2 separate regions of the Homo sapiens genome follow, and region 2 is linked to region 1. The links come from fine-mapping of genetic effects on gene expression. A gene starts in region 1. The other region holds a variant in brackets. All regions are shown on one strand. Distances are between the middles of the regions.

Evidence for each region. PIP is the estimated chance that this variant, and not a neighbour inherited with it, causes the effect.
Region 2: its variant is fine-mapped to the expression of RAP1GAP2 in tibial artery (GTEx, PIP 0.97).

Annotation. Positions count from the first base shown.
Region 1 is chr17:2,794,963-2,797,852 of GRCh38, forward strand. It overlaps RAP1GAP2 (RAP1 GTPase activating protein 2), which reads left to right and starts at 1,476. Exons shown (of 25, transcript NM_015085.5): 1 at 1,476-1,609. The coding sequence starts at 1,566.
Region 2 is chr17:2,852,126-2,855,015 of GRCh38, forward strand. All of the region lies in intron 2 of RAP1GAP2 (RAP1 GTPase activating protein 2), which reads left to right. Among named protein-coding and RNA genes, the nearest start is that of RAP1GAP2, 57 kb to the left of the region's middle. The variant G/A (reference allele first, on the strand shown) is at 1,437.

The DNA of each region.
Region 1 (2,890 bases):
TGCCTCCCAGGTTCAAACGATTCTCCTGCCTCAGCCTCCAGAGTAGCTGGGATTATAGGTACCTGCCATCATGCCTGGCTCATTTTTGTATTTTTAGTAGAGATGGGGTTTCACCATGTTGGCCAGGCTGGTCTCGAACTCCTGACCTCAGGTGATCCACCCGCGTTGGCCTCCCAAAGTGCTGGGATTACAGGTGTGAGCCGCCACACCCGGCCTTTCTTCTTCTTCTTTTTTTTTTTTTGAGACGTTTTCTTCCCTTTCTCCACTGCTTGGGGGTAGGGTGGGGCCTGGGGCCCTATCTGTGCCCACTCCCCCCAGTGTCTGTTGTAGTGTACGTGCCACATCCCTTTGAGGGGCTGCCATTAGTAAGTGCCTGCTGTGTACCAGGTGTGGTCAGCACCAGTGCGTGCAGAGATGAGCACTGGCCCTGTGGTGTGCAGACTGGGATGCGTGCAGGACACGCTAGCCCTGTGGCATGAGGACCAGCACCTGAGCATGCAGAGATGAGGACGAACCCTGCGGTTCAGCTGGGAAGACAAATCCACCCGCACATGGGTACCGCCCCCCCACCCCACACAGCCAGCGTGAAGCATGCCACTGCTCTGACCTCTGTCTAGACACTTGGCGGCGGGGGTGGGGGGCGGCTGACAGGTACAGCTCTGTGCCCATGTGTGTGTACATGCGAATGCCCCTTGCAGTGTGATGTGGTCTGAGTATGTGGATGAGTGCCTGCGGGCACATGTGTATGCGTTCATGTCTGTGCACGTGTCCAATGGGGCTTTGTCAGTATGTGAGAAGCGTGTGCAGGTGTGTCTACTGATGCCTGTGTGAAGTGGTGTGTGGATGTGCACGGGAGCGTGTGTGCCGCGCTGTGCTCAGGTGTGTACAGGTGTCTAATGATACGTATGTCTGCGTGCATGTATCTGTGTGTACCTGGGTATCCTGGGCGTGTGTGTGTCCATGTGTGCATCCCACGTGCCCCTGTGCCCATGCGTGTGCATGTATACTTACATCCACGTGTGCTAGTGGAATGACATGTGTGTGGCTGGTTCCTCTGGCGTGTGCCGAGCCATGGTGGGGCAGGCAGGCAAAGGTCCCTGTCTCAGGCAGCCCTCGGGAGTGGGTGTGAAGGTCCCCAGTGCTCAGGCGTCCCTGAGGCTTCCAGCTGAATCTTTCTGTCCCTCCTAGGCGTGGCTGTGGGAATCCTTGGGGCGCCTTTGGGTTCCAGGAAGCTGGGGCTGTGTGGGCCGGGCTGCTAACTGGGGCTGTGGAGCAATCTGCCAGCCGAGCCCCTTCCGGAGCTGTGGGTTCCTCTGGGTGTGGGGAAGCTGCCCTCCACAACCTCCTCGGCCTATCTTGGTGCCTCCTGGAGTGCAGGACACACCTCCCAGCTCTGCAGCCTCACCCACAGGAAGCTCGGGTTGGGGGCAGGCGAAGAGGGAGGTGCCACGCTGGGCTCCCCGCCCTGCACCGGCACTGACCCCGCTGTACCACGGCCCTCTTGCGGACAGCCCCGGGGACGTCGTTGGGACATCGCTGGGACCCCGGGCTCTGCAGCCACAACCATGTTTGGCCGGAAGCGCAGTGTCTCCTTTGGGGGCTTCGGATGGTGGGTGACAGGTGGGAGGGTGGGGGAATGATGGGAGAGAACTTAGAAGTGAAGTCTTGTTAAGTGCATTGGCGGCCGTGGGAACAGAGGGGCTCGGGCTGTGCCTGAGAGCTGGGTCTGCTGACGCCCTGGCAGGTCGAGATGCAGGATCCTGGTGGGGACATCAGAGACCGTAAGCCTTCCCCACTGTCCCTGGGCACAATCTGCTGGCGAATCCTGGAGGTCTGCGCCGGCTGCCCGTGGGGAGGTGGATAGCATGAGTGTGACTGCAGTTGAATGTGTGTGTCTCTGTGTCCGCAGGTTCCCATGTATGTGTGTGCGTGTCTGGGATTATGTGTAAGTGTGTGTGTGCGCGTTTGAGCCTGTGTGTGCAGGCGTGTGTGTGTGGCTGTGACTGCCAGTCCGTGTGACCGTGTGTGAGGTGTGTGCCTGTGCATGTGGGCAGCTGCCTGTCTGCACTTCTGGCCTTCTGTGTCTGTGTGTGCTTGTGTCTGCGTGTTTGTGTGTGTGATGCTCCTGTCTGTGCTGTTGTTGTGGCCTTGTGGCAGGGGAGTCTGTACCTGCTGGACCTCTGGGCTGCCTGCTGTCTTGGGGGTGGGTTGTGAGAGAAGGTCTCCCACCTGCACCCCAGGCAGCCCACCCTAGCTCTGTCCTAGCCTGAGCAGCTGCATCTGTCCCCAGCCTCCTGCCTGGCCCTCTGGACACTCTTGCCTCTAAGCTTCTGTCTGGGATGAGGGATGTGCTTTTTCTTCCCGGCGGGGGGCAGAAGGTAGGCACACGAAGGCCAAAGGCTTGTCTCTGGTTCCCAGTGCTGGCAGCTTCTTCGCAGCTGGGGAACAGAGTCTGGTGGTTTTCATGATCGGTTTCCTTTCAGTGCCTGGGCTGGGGGCGTTGTCAGACTGGGAGAGGGCCCCGCGGGAGGTGGCCGGGGGGTGTCCCGGTGTGGAAAATGGTGGACTAATGGGGGTGGCACGAAGGGCGAGGGGGAGAGGGGCTGTGTTCCTCGGTAATTTTTCGCTTCCGTGTGTGTGGCTTATTTCCCTCTTCCTCCTCTTCAAAAGCACTTTGCCATCCATCCTCTGGCAGGGGGGGACTGTGGGCACTCCATGTTTGGCAGATGGGATGGTGCGGATGAGAAGATGGCACAGCGTCGCCTGTGTCTGCTCTCGGGCCCTCCCTGACGCCTGGATCTGGGAGCTGCCACCCCGAGGGTAGGTGCCAGTGTCCGGGAGGCAGCAGAGGACTTGGCTTCTGGTTGGGAGGGGTGTGTGTGTCTTGGCT
Region 2 (2,890 bases), 57 kb after region 1:
TGCTGCTGGGAGCTCTTCCCTTTTCTCTACCAAGGACACTCATTTTATTCTTTTTCCAGACCAATTCTTAAGTCACTACTGGCATAGTACTTGCAGCCTGCCTAACCGCCAATCTCAGGAGTGGGGCCCGGGTCATTCAAATCTCTAGCTATAAAAAGATGTCCATGGCTATCTATATCTCTGATCCCCCACAACCCCGGCAGGGAGGGGGTGGGGGTGGGGGTGGGGGGCACAAGGCCAGTGGTAACGGCTGCTTCATAAATAGACCAGGTGCATTTAAGAACCACCCTGGGGCTTCCTCCCCTCCACCCCAACTCCAGTGCCAGCAGGAAGCTGTGGGCATTGGAGAGGCAGGGCTGAAGCCTCAGGCCCTCGAATTCGTTTGCAGTCCCTCTCCCCTCTCCACCCAGCATGGTCCCCTCCCTGCCTGGATTTTCTGTGTTTGCTTGAACACCAGACTATTAAAAACAAAACAAAAAACAAAACAACAACAAAAAACAAGGCAAATTGCCTCAGGGGGAACCTCTTCGGCCCCAAAGATGGACTAATTGGCTTGTTCTAATTCCTTTCAGCCCCCTGCCCACTTCCTTTTCCCTAGAGGGGCAAAGCTGTGAGTGATGCTTCGGAGGGGTGAGGCGGGAGGGGGCTGGGAGGCTGGGCAGCACCTGGAAGTGGATGAGGGCGATTGTGAGCGAGGCCCCGCGCCGATGGTAGGGACCAGGCCACAGCCCTTTCCCCAGGAGCCGGCGCGACCTTCCGACCTTCCGACCTTCCGCCCTTCCTTTCCGAAGGAGATGAGGCTCGCGCGCGGCTGGCAGGGGCGGGAGGGACCACGCGACGAGTGCGCAGCGGCCAGGCCCGGGTGGGCGCGGGGAGGGCGGAGTGGGGGGCGCCCGGCCCGCCAGGAGGAAGCGGGGTCGCCGTGAAGTTGGTTATTGAACCCATGTGGAGTCAAACTCCCAGGGCCGGGAGAGCCAGTGTTCGCGGGGAGCCGACCCCAGCCCACTCTGCATCCCAGCTCGGCGATCCTTGCGCCGACTCTGCGGGGAGGCGGGGGCAGAATTCCGCCTCGTTCCTCCCATCCGCAAGCTCCCACCCGGGGACCCGGGCCCGGGAGCTGCGAGCCGGGGCGGGCGCCGGGCTCAGGTGCCCCCTGTAAGCGCTGGGCGGCCGGGAGGGGACGGGGACCGCGCGCGGGCAGTTTCGTTTGGACGGAGGAGGACGCGCGTTTCCTCTTGGTGCCTGTTTTCTCTCCCTCTGTTTTAAAAGCAGTGACAGCATCGGGGAAGTATCCGGGGCCGGGCCGGGGAGGGCGGCAGCCGCCTCTGCCTGGGGAGGGAGCTCGGGGCCGCCGGCGGGAGTGCGGGCGGGGACCAGAAGGAGCGGGCGAGGGGAGGCAGGGCCGGGGCCGGGGAGGGCGCCTGGGAGCCGGGCAG[G/A]GGGGTCCCGGGAGCGCTGTCCGCCTCCTCCTGCGCTTCGCCCGCTCCCTGTGCCCCGCGTCCTCCACCATCCGGGCGGCCGAGGCCGGGGCGCGGGAGGCGGGGCCGGGGCGGGTCCCGGCGCGGGCGGCGCGTCTGAGCGGGAGCCGGGAGCCGCCGGCCCGGGCCGCGCCCCGAGCGAGCCTCGGAAATGCCCGCGCCGGGGGAGCGGACGGCGGCTGCCCCGCGGGCCCCGAGGAGACGCTGAAGGTCGCCGGGAGGGAGGGGAGAGCGCGCGGTCACCTGACCCCCGGGGCGCACCTAGGCGGGGCGGGGCCCATGCGAGGCGGAGGCCGGGGGCCGGGGCGCGGGCTCAGGGGCCGGGTGCGGAGCGCGCGGAGCCGGGGCTGCGGGGACGCGGGCGGGCGAGGTCGGGCACCGCGGGCGGCCTCGCCATGTCCCAGCCCGCGGGGAGGAGGCATTGCCGAAAGGCGGGGATCCGCGCCGCCGTGGTGCTCATCGGACTCCTGCACAAATCCCGGAGGCAGAATAAAGAGAAAAGGTAAACCCCTGCAGCGCCGGCCGCTTCCCTCCGCTCTCCTGCTGCATGCCAGTTTTCTTTGGGGTGGACTTTTCCGATGGGTGTTTGGTTCCGTGTTGGTTAGAAAAAAGCCTCCTCTCCAGGTACCGTCGTGCGAACCGAGTTCGGAGCTTCGCCCCGGACCCTGGCTGGTGCGAGGAGCCTGGGCAGGACCTTGGCGGAATCGGAGGGCCGCTGGGAGGGCGCATCGGGGTGGATCCCTGACGGAGGGACCCCAAGTCCGTCGCCCCCAGACCCTTTGCAGACCGCGACCCCGTTCCCCAAGCCTGCAGCCGCGGATGCCATTGATCCAGCCCAGGCGGCTCCATGCGCCGGTGTTGCCATTTGCTTCCTGCAACTTGGCTGAGCCCTCGAGGTGCCTGCCTGGCCGAGATCCGCTTGCTCTGCGCTCGGTGCCGGCAGGCGAGGAGCAAGTTTGGAGGTTGTTCGCTCCCCACCCACCCTCTCGCCCCACCGCCATAGGGTGACTTTGCCTCTTCGCCTTTCTGGCGTTTGTTCTTTCGTTTGCTCCTGGATATTGAAAATAGTTTTCTTTAGCTATTTCAGAGACATTTTGGACGACCTGTGTGGTGGGAGGTGTGGGGTTTGGAGTAGGCAAAGGAGGTTCTGAGGAAGCTTTCTAGGCTGCAACCGCAGCTGCAGGTCTGACATCCACCAGACCCCAAGGAGCTACCAGGCAGGTCGTTGGCACAAAGCCTCCCTGTTCTGCTAGGGTGCATGGCAGAGCCTCCAGCAATGGGGGGAGGGGAGTGCGGAAGCTGACTGCCCACAGAGATGTTGCCGGGATCAGGATTTGGGGTAGCTTCCAGTGACCCTGCTGGATCCTAGTTTCCAGAGGAGTTTTGGAATGGTTAATACCGCACCCTATAAGACA